Homo sapiens: one gene and its partners. The protein of the gene in region 2 purifies or fractionates together with the protein of the main gene of each other region. This does not show direct contact. Each region holds a gene or a part of one and is shown on either strand. Other genes may lie near its edges.

What was found. The genes of interacting proteins can lie anywhere in the genome.
Region 1: the proteins of HRH1 (region 2) and SH3GL3 purify together in Homo sapiens (pull-down; one study listed by IntAct). This does not show direct contact.
Region 3: the proteins of HRH1 (region 2) and HEATR3 purify together in Homo sapiens (co-immunoprecipitation; one large-scale study listed by IntAct). This does not show direct contact.

Annotation. Positions count from the first base shown.
Region 1 is NC_000015.10:83,586,841-83,590,340, reverse strand, and holds part of SH3GL3 (endophilin-A3), read right to left. Parts: exon of another isoform or gene 3,366-3,500; intron 3,359-3,365; coding exon 3,255-3,358; intron 2,984-3,254; exon of another isoform or gene 2,828-2,983; intron 1,680-2,827; coding exon 1,570-1,679; intron 1-1,569. UniProt on the Homo sapiens protein: Implicated in endocytosis. May recruit other proteins to membranes with high curvature.
Region 2 is NC_000003.12:11,160,993-11,164,492, reverse strand, and holds part of HRH1 (histamine H1 receptor), read right to left. Parts: exon of another isoform or gene 2,725-3,500; intron 1-2,724. UniProt on the Homo sapiens protein: G-protein-coupled receptor for histamine, a biogenic amine that functions as an immune modulator and a neurotransmitter.
Region 3 is NC_000016.10:50,086,470-50,089,969, reverse strand, and holds part of HEATR3 (HEAT repeat-containing protein 3), read right to left. Parts: intron 1-3,500. UniProt on the Homo sapiens protein: Plays a role in ribosome biogenesis and in nuclear import of the 60S ribosomal protein L5/large ribosomal subunit protein uL18 (RPL5). Required for proper erythrocyte maturation.

The sequences.
Region 1 (3,500 bases), on a different chromosome or scaffold from region 2:
CACAAAATGTAAAGTCACAAGCAAAAGACAGACACATTTGACTACATCAAAATAAAAGCTTCTGTATACTCAAAGCAAAACTAAACAAAGCAAACAACAGCAAAAACAACAAAGGGACAAGGCACTCCAAAAACAAAGTTTAAAGATAAATGACAAACTAGGAAAAAAATTATTAATATCCTCATATGGAAAGAGCTCCTATAAAACAATAAGACAAAGCAAACTACTCCCAAAAAACACAAATAAATGACATAAACAGACAATTCAGACATAAGGAAATACAAATTAAAATATAGAAAAGAAAGTTCACCCTCACTAATAATCATGAAAATGCAAATTAAGACTGGATACCATTTTTTTCTCATGAGTGCTTGGCAGAAATGGAAGTCTACTGGCATGGGTGTGGGGAAGCAGGTGTTCATGCTTTAATAGTAATGTAGCCAGCACAGTGATAAAGGATACTCACTGTAGCAAATAACTGGAAAAAACCTTAACGTCCACCAATAGGGAAATGGTATAATAGAAAACTATGAAGCTGTTAAAACAGTGGGATAGATCTATATGCATGATATGGAAATAACTCGAAGAAACAGTGATACATTTTAAAAAGCAAACTGCCAAACAATATGCCTAGTATAATCTCGCATTTAAAAAACAGAAAAAAGGCTGGGTACAGTGGCTCATGCCTATAATCCCAGCACTTCAGAAGGCCGAGGCAGAAGGATTGCTTGAGCCCAGGAGTTGCAGGCCAGCCTGGGCAACAAAGTAAGACCTTGTCTCTACAAAAAATAAAAAAATTTGCCTGGCAGGGTCACATACACCTGTAGTTCCAGCTACATGGAAGGCTGAGGCAGGAGGATTGCTTGAGCCCAGGAGGTCAAGGCTGCACCGAGCCATGTTCATGCCATTGCACTACAGCCTGGGTGACAGAGCAAGACTTTGTCTCAAAAAAGAAAAAAAGAAAAAACAGAAAAAAATCCAAAACGCTGTTTATGTGTATATTTATGTACCTCAATAGATATGATAATAGTTATACCAAATTTTTTTAACAGTGGCTACATCTAGGAAGCGAACTGCGATGGTGTAGGTGATCACAAGAGACTATAGAATGACTTATACCATTAAATTTTTTTTTCTGTTTGATTATTTTACCAATTTTTTTCTGTTTGATTATTTTACTAAAAGACACATTTGCATCACTTGTTTAATAAAAAATAACGATGCAGCACTTAAGATAGTATCTAGCATATAGCAGTTGCTCAAAAATGCTAATTTCAACTTAAAAATAAATTAAGAAAATATTTTCAAAGAGTTAAAAAAATAAAGGATGATGTAGCCATAATGGTTCTATGGCCAAGGTTCTAAATGCTACATTATATAAGTGATAGAATTCTTCCCCAGGGAACAGAAAAAAGGGGCACGTTTAGGGGAAAAGGGAATTTACCAAACAACCAAAGAAAGATATCCAGGGTCTGTGTGTATTCACTGACCCAGAAACAAGCAGTAAATAAGTGTTTCTAGAAGTGCTTTACTAAAGGCACACTTAGCATATTAGAATGGTCAACTTACCTGTCGTCTTCACTACAGAGGTGGTGGAAACTCCATTGAGCTCACTAGAACTCCTTTTCACAGGCCTTGGCTTGTATTCTCGTCTGGGGACACTGGATGCAGCTGATATTCTGTAACACACATCGTAAGATGAGCCAGACATCTGATGTTGAAAGCTTTCCAAACACACATCCTCTCTGCCTTGTTGAGCACAGGAACTTAGGTTACAGCCAGTGGTCATGAAAGGGACGATTTTTACACACTGACTCTTGAGTAGCCCGAAGTGATGGAGGTGATATCACAAATGCAGTTTTTCAACTCCCTATTTGAGCTTGTGAGTGAAATTCATCTTGAAGAAGACTAATTGGGCCAGCCATGGTGGCTCATGCCTGTAATCCCAGCACTTTGGGAGGCCAAGGTGCTCACCTGAGGTCAGGAGTTCGAGATCAGCCTGGCCAACATGGTGAAACCCCATCTCTACGAAAAATACAAAAATTAGCCAGGCATGGTGGTGGGCGCCTGTAATCCCAGCTACTCGGGAGGCTTAGGCAGGAGAATCTCTTGAAACTGGAAGGTGGAGGCTGCAGTGAGCAGAGGTTACGGTGAGCCAAGATGGCGCCACTGCACTCCAGCCTGGGCAACAGAGCACGACTCCATCTCAAAACAAAACAAAACAAAACAAAAGACTAATTTTCTTCATCAAGTCTCTGAGGCATCCAGCAAGTGCCTGGGACGCGGTCGGCACCCAGTGATGGGAGCTGCCTTCTCCCTCACTCTACTCTTATAGATTATGATAGAATTATGAAAATACACTCCTGTCAGTAACAGGTAAACTATCTGCCTGCAGAAGTGGATGCTTCAGGGACTGAACACATCTTTGTCTTCCCTAGGTAACTACGTCATTGATTTAAGTAAAAATCCCTCCAAATTTATGCATTACCATAATCCTGTGTAAAACAATTTTCTGTTATCAAACCTAATTTAAAATATTTTAATAAACAGGGTTGCCATGCAGACTATATATAATATTACTAATTTTCAGAAAAGTATAGACTACATCTATGATTAAATTCACAAGGAATGCAGAAACCTTTCTTTGATTGTTCAGAAGATATTTTTGACTCTTTCAATACCTGTCAATATTATGAACACAGCCTGAAATTTGTCAATATTTTGACTCTTTCAATACTAGTCAATATTATGAACATATCCTGAAATTCGTACTGGTGAAGTGAAGGCACTACCTTTTTTTTTTTTTTTTTTTTTTACAGATATTTACATATTTTCCATACAGCATCTCACTTTTTTCCATAGCTCTGGATGTTTTCCATCCCTTTGTGAATGGGGAGTTAAACTCTCATCAAATCAGCAATGAAGCCAGGGTAGTTCTGTAGGGGTTGATGTCCCAGGTGGGAGAGCAACTTGGTTAGTTGCCCTAAACACGGGTCACAAAAAAAAGGGATTTAATGAAAAGAAAAAGGAGAAAAGCTGCCAGGTCCCTTTTCCCAGTTCTATCCTACTGGCCAAAGCCAGTACTTATTATCTCAGTCCCATCCCACATCCAACCATGAAAGCCAGTGAAAGAAAATTCAAAACAGAATGAGGCAGGGGAAGGGGGAGATGGAGAGATGGAGAGACAGACAGATGGATTTCAATAGATGTTACCTCCGCAGCCCTTGGCTTGTAAGAAACGTGGAGGTGCTTACCGCATCTGTAGCTTGCTCTGCAGCTCCTGCAGAATCTCTGTGGACTGTCTGTGATAGTCTAATGCTGCCTCTATGAACACAGCCAACTGGCTGACTTGTTCTACCTGCAGCAGAAGTGCAAAATTATTCCATGGAGGCCCGAGCCTGTGTAATGTCCAGAGAGAGAGGAGACCAGCAGCAAAGACCTAGCTTTGCAGGGAAGACCAGTGTCTGCCTTGGTCCATTTCATTTAATTTCATGTAGGAG
Region 2 (3,500 bases):
GGAGTTTCCAGGCTGGCGGTAGAAACAGGTAAACCAGGTATTTATTTTACATCCTGATGAGTGCACAGTGTCATGGAAGCATCTAAACCAGCCTGGGGGATAAGGATTTAAATGAAAGAAGCAACACTGTCCCTCAATCCCTCCCTTCGTTCTTCACGCCCACCCCATCACATCTCCTTTCCCTTCTTTACACAGAACACTCCTTTGGCCCCTACCCACCTTGAGCATCTTAATTACTTCCTGTTAACCTCCCTGTCGCTCTCTAAGGCATGGCCAGCCCAGGCCGTGTGCTCTTTCTGGAGCATCCCTTTCTACCTCTATGCCTTGGCTCAGGCCATCCCCTATACCTGGCTGTTCTCCCTCCATGTCTTTACCCATTGATCCCTTATGTTTCAAAGTCCTGCTCACTCATTCATTCATTCATTCATTCATTCAACAAGTATCTCCAGAGAGTGCACTATGTTCCTTGCACGTCGATGGGTACCAGGGATATGGAGGGAAATCAGTTACAGCCTATGTCCTCAAGCTGCTCACAGCCATGGGGGGACCGATGGTGACAATAAGGACATGTATGGAAGATGTGAGTCTGGGGGTGTTGTAAGGCCAGAGAAGGATCCTAATCCAGCCTTAGGGGTGGGGGGTATTCAGGGAAGACTTCCTGGAAGAGAATACCTCTGAGTCCTGAAGAATGAGGTGAAAAGAGAGAGAGAGGTGTATATAAATACATGAGAACACATATAATCTTAGGCATCGATGTGACCTATGATTATATGTGTTCACATGTACTTATATGCTAATGTAATAACTAGTGTTTATTGGATGCTACTAGGAGCAGCACTGGACTAGCACATTTGACATATTAGCCTTATAGGGGTGAGGCCTCACAACCTTATAGGGGAGAGGACTATTATCATTCCCATTTCACAGATGAGGAAGCTGAGGCACAGAGAAATTCAGAACTTGCTCCTGGTCATACAGTGACTAAGTGGTAGAGCTCGGGTTCAAACTCATTGCAGCCTCCAAGCCCATGTTTTGACCACTGTTCCCTGCCTTCTGAGGCTGGCCAGGTCATTCTGCCACTTGCTCTTGTCCAATGCATTTATCAGGGACATCTTTCCAGATGGTAAAATTCAGGTTTCCTTCTATTTAATGGCTGCAGAGGATGTCACTGGATTTTAAGCAGGAAAGTGAAATGGTCAGATATGTCCCTCGGAAAGGGACCTCTGGGGATAGAAGGGGGCTGCCTGGAGGTAGAGAAGCCTGTGTTGGGTGTGCAGAAGGAGGAGGAGGCCTACGTTGAGGCTGGGATGGGGTGATGCACAGTGGGGAGGAGCTCGGGAAACACGCGGTGCAGCAGGATGCAGCAGTGACCACCTCTAAGGTGATCAGAAGGGCAAGAAGGCAGTGGGGGAGGCTGTCTCAGGATCTCCTTCCCAACTAGACCTCTTCCAGGTCTGCACATTTTAATTCCCCCTAAGCATGCTCCAGCTAGCACTTCCAATTCAGAGCAAGTGAGCAGCAGCTTCAGCTCCACTAAGATGTGCAGATGTGGTGGTGCCTGTGGAATTCTTAATTCTTTGAATAATCTTTGCCTAGGAGGGTCATGTCTATTTTACAAAAAACAAAACAAAACAAAACAAAACCCAAGAATAACCACAAATTACCCAAGACACTGCTTTAACCCTGCCTCCTAGTAACAGCTCATTCAGCCTCACCACACATAGCCACCTGTCCAGTCCTAAGCATGGACTCCACACCAGTCTCAATCTGTCTGTTTCTCTCCTTGGCCACTGCCAGTCCAAGGGGCTGTCCTCTCCCATCTGGATGACAGCAATAGCCTTGTTACTGGTCTCCCCAGTTACACTCTAGCATAAGTTACTCCATGTCTCTAGCCTCAGTTGTCTCATCTATAAAATGGGCACATGAATATGCATCTCGTAGAGCTGTTGAGGACTGGGTGACATCACAAATGGAAAGCCCTGGAGTGCTTTCTCAACAGACAGTACTTCTTTTCATCAGTCATCAGGACAGGAGGGTCAGAAAGGTCAGGGGCTATTTCTCCCATACCCTGCTGGTCCAGATAATAGCAGGTGCTAGGGACCTCTGGATCGCCCCAACCCCCTTGCCCGCACTCCCCCACCAAGGAGAGGAAAATGCTTCTTGCCCATTCATCATATATCCTGCCACTCGATGGGAGCATCATCACCTTATAACCCAGGGCTCTCCCCAGCTCCTCAATGGCTCCTCCCCTGGTTCCTTGCATGGTGACTGTATCTATGAGTGAATCTGAGAGATGAAATAGGTAAGTAAGTATAACTCAGTCCCTTCTTTTGGGAGCCAGCGTGCCTGCAGGGAGCATGCGTCCTTTCCACTCTCTCCCAGGAAGGACAGGGAGGGGCCACCTCCTGCAGAGCCCAGCACTGCCTGTACCTGAGTGGGCAACTCAGCCCATCCTGGCCTTCAGCATTTGCGAGCCCACACGCTCCACTGTCACTCTGATTAGTAATAACCATGACATTTTGTTCTCCAGCTGCCTTGTCTTGCCTTTTGTCTTCATTCTCGATTGGTACAGAGCTCAGGCTGGGCAGAGGAGTGCTATTTATCGGCCCTTCCCACCGCCCCCTACAGGAGAGACCAGTGGGAGAAAACTCCATCTTGAGTTCCTGGCTTGTTAATGGAGGTTTTCAAGGCTTGGTGAAACCCGCTGCTGTGAGAATCAATCAATAAACAACTGAAAAATATTTATTGAGCTCCTGATACAACAGGGAAAATAACTTATCCTTGCCCAGTGTTTCTTACCACTTTCAAGATGCCTGGAAAGCCGTTCCATTCAAAGGTTTGTGAGCACCATGAAGTGCCAGGCGCTCTGTTATGAATGCAGACCCTACCAGAGGCCCATGTTAGGCTCATCAGGGTGGCCCCGCCACTCAAGTAGTCAGACACCAAGGACAGAGGAAAGAAAACCAGGCTTCCCATATGAGCCTGGGATCAACAATCACGTCCACAGACTCTCCAGACCACAGGTGTGGGCTGGTGGTGGAATTGTGCCTCACCTGGGCCGAGGGCAAGGGGCAGCAGGATGTACTTATTTAATGATGATTAGTGATTCTCTCCAGGAACAAAGAAAAGCTAGCAAGTAAATAAAAGGAACACTCTTGAAAGAGCAAACCAAGTGAAAATTGCCTGGAAAAGTTTGAAAGAAATGAAAAAAGAAGAGAAAGCAGATGCCTCTGTTAGCTATTAAAATACAACCTATACAAACAATCATCAAACCAGCATGGCACAGATCTCCGGTCCTCCTCCTGTGCTCTGTGCCCCTGAACCACATCAAAGGCTCTCTTGCTGTCCACCCACTTCTGATTGGGTTTGGCCACAGGCAGGGCAGGAGGAGAATGACATTTAGTGTTTATTCCCTTCTCTTGGGTTTGGCCACAGGCAGGGCAGGAGGAGAATGACATTGAGTGTTTATTCCCTTCTCTTGCTCCTCCAAACTTGGAGGC
Region 3 (3,500 bases), on a different chromosome or scaffold from region 2:
CTCTAGGACGGGCACGGTGGCTCATGCCTGTAATCCCAGCACTTTGGGAGGTCGAGGCGGGTGGATCACAAGGTCAGGAGTTCAAGACCAGCCTGACCAACATGGTGAAACCCGTCTCTATAAAAATACAAAAATTAGCTGGGCGCATTGGCAGGCACCTGTAATCCCAGCTACTTGGGAGGCTGAGACAGGAGAATTGCTTGAACTTGGGGGGCAGAAATTGCAGTGAGCCAAGATCGTGCTACTGTACTCCAGCCTGGGCAACAGAGTAAGACTCCATCTCAAATAAAAGAAAAAAAAAGAATATCATCTCCAAATATAAGCGATTATCCTTTATCAAATTCATTCTGATAAGAAAACATTCTGTTACTCCAAAATAAATAACAATGACACTACTTTTCAAGTCATTTTGATTCTCCATTTCTCCGAATGCCAATATTAGGTGATACGAAGGCCACAGATGGGATACGAGTATGGGCCCCAAGCAAGCTGGACAGCCCAGAGGTATTGTAATGGCCCTCTTCCCCCAGCAGTAACCATCCAAACCCATTACATAGGCAAGGCCAATTCAGACTACCAATCCCTGGAAGTAACTGAGCACATGTCATTAGGTGAATACATTTTCAAAATTACTGTTGTGACAGTAACGTGTGGTAGGCGATTTCTACATAAATATCATCAAGACCCTCAGGATACACAAAAGCATTCTTAACCTAGCAGCATGTCACATTCCTGAACCTTAAAAAAAAAAAGATGATGTCAAGAATAGACATGAAATGGGAATTTATTTAAAATCAAAGTGCTTAGTTATATTTTCCCACAATTCAGAAACTTTCCATTATTTCTCCAGGACTCAGCTTGGGGCAGTTTTCCTGTGATCTTTGCAGTTAATAAATGTGCTGGCCTCAGTGACCACAAATAACCAGCAGAACCAAGAGAAACATATCTGAGTGCTTTCACTATAGCACAGGCACACAGGGAGTTTGTTTCAAGTGAAATAACCTCTGTGTGCTGCCTGGGGATGGGACCGGGGGTACCTGGACCAGACTCTCAGTGAGAAATGGCCCAGAGCTGAGAGATGGCAGCTTGTGGAACCAGGGCTGCCAGGGTTACCTAGAGCTTAGGTAGGGCTTGGAAGCAGTGAGAGACTTGGGGTCCTGCTCACCTGGGACCCTGGCTGTGGACTCCCTGCCTGGCTCTGCCCCCTGCCTCTACTCAGGGGAATGGGTGGGGGTGGGCATGAGCAACAGCAGCCCTCTCACTCCCACCCCACAGGACATCTTGCTGGGCTGATGGGAGCCAGAATGCTTGCAAAAGTTGGGGAAAGTCCCCTCCCCGTTTACCATCCAGATCTCTTCCAGGTTTAGGAGGCTAGGAGACAAATACAAAGCTACAGCCATCATCTGGTCTGCTCACACTGACGAGCTGCCTCTGTACTCCAGTGCTTGTCCCGTCCTGCCCTGGAATGGGAATGGGACTAGCACTGCCCATATCCTGACTATATCCTGTCCTGGGCATGGCTGGGCACAGCTTTCATGGGATCATTCCAGCCAATGAATGCACAGCCAGGGAGTACTTGAAAGGTACACCTGTTAACTGATCAATGTTGAAAGGGTGGCAGAGACAGCTCAGTAACCACATATGGGTTTCTGAATATTTAATTACTTAATTTTTAAAGATTAATTTAGAACTTAAAAAACATGTACCATTAAACACACAGCACCTCTTAGGAACTTGACGGAATGTAAAACAGATGTCTAAAGAACTGGGGACCAACACTTGAATGGATGTTGACACAAAAACTTGTATTTAGTTAAAAGTGACTCTCTTTTGATTTTTTTTGAAACGGAGTTTCACTCTTGTTGCCCAGGCTGGAGTGCAATGGCGCGATCTTGGCTCACCACAACCTCCGCCTCCCGGGTTCAAGCGATTCTCCTGCCTCAGCCTCCCGAGTAGCTGGGATTACAGGTGCCTGCCACCACGCCTGGCTAATTTTTGTATTTTTAGTAGAGACAGGGTTTCGCTATGTTGGCCAGGCTGGTCTCGAACTCCCAACCTCAGGTGATCCACCCGCCTCGGCCTCCCAAAGTGCTGGGATTACAGGTGTGAGCCACCGCGCCTGGCCTGATCTTTTAAGAGTTCAATTCTTGGACTTAATGTTGTGTCTGAAAAGGAGGATAAAATATATGAAGAATACACTGAATATAACACAATGGAATTATCTTATTTGCCAGTGTAGAAAGCAAATATCTTCACGTTTACCCTCAAAAAATCCTGAAAGACACCTGGAACCTCAGCAGCTGAGAGAGAGGGGCAGATTCCCACCTCCCAGGCTACCCTCGCTCCAGCAATGGATACTGGGTGGAGTAATGTGGAGAGTTTTCCTTCAGTATAGAAAACACCACTTGTTCTTCTCTCTCAGTCTCTCTTGTTTTTGTTTGGTTTGAGCTCCTATAGTTTAATGTGGTCAAATTAAGTAAGATTTTACTATGAGGAACTATGAAAATCTGTTAGAAGAACATGCATTGGACTTTGTACAGCTAGTTTTTGTTTTTTTTGTTTTTCCCTCCAAGTGAAACCTACAGCTAGGTCATTTAAAAGAATATTTAATTTAACTCTTGTATCGCTATAGATCTTTGTGTGCATATGAAATTAATCCGTATCAGAGACCTGTAACTTAAGAGAATCAGCTCCTACCATGCAAAGGTGTTTGAAGAAAGATACATGTTAGATGATGGCAAGGTGTAGAATTGTGTGGATGGTATTCTACCATTTGCCTTACACACACGCACGCATGCCCGCATACACACGCTCTCTTATACATGGAGAATCTCTCTGGAAGGATACACAAGTAACTGGTGCAACAGTAACTTGACTCTGGGAGAGGAACTGGGTGTCGGAGAAAGGAGGGAGGCTTTCCAGTTTCTGTCCTCTAATAACTTTTGAATTCTGTACTACATACATATATTAATCAAACTTAAATGCTTGTAACTGGGAAGAAAATAATAGAATAGTACTCAATTATTATTATTATTATTTTGAGATGGAGTTTTGCTCTTGTTGCCCAGGCTGGAGTGCAATGGCACAACCTCAGATCACTGCAATCCCCACCTCCTGGGTTCAAGCGATTCTCCTGCCTCAGCCTCCCGAGTAGCTGGGATTACAGGCATCTCCACCACCACGCCCAGTTAAAGTTTTGTATTTTAGTAGAGCGGTTTCATCATGTTGGCCAGGCTGGTCTCCAACTCCTGACCTGAGGTGATCCTCCCGCCTCGGCCTCCCAAAGTGCTGGGACTACAGGCATGAGCCACCGTGCTTGGCTGAGAATTATCCAAATACCTTAATGAGGCCTTTATGATATTTATGATACAGCCTTGACTGGCCTGATATAACTGGATGCAAACAATTTTAACAAAAAAGAAAATTATAAGCCCAGGAGCTGCTTGCATACCTCGTTTTGACTCTGTACCCCATGGCAACTATAAATACATGATTCCTGT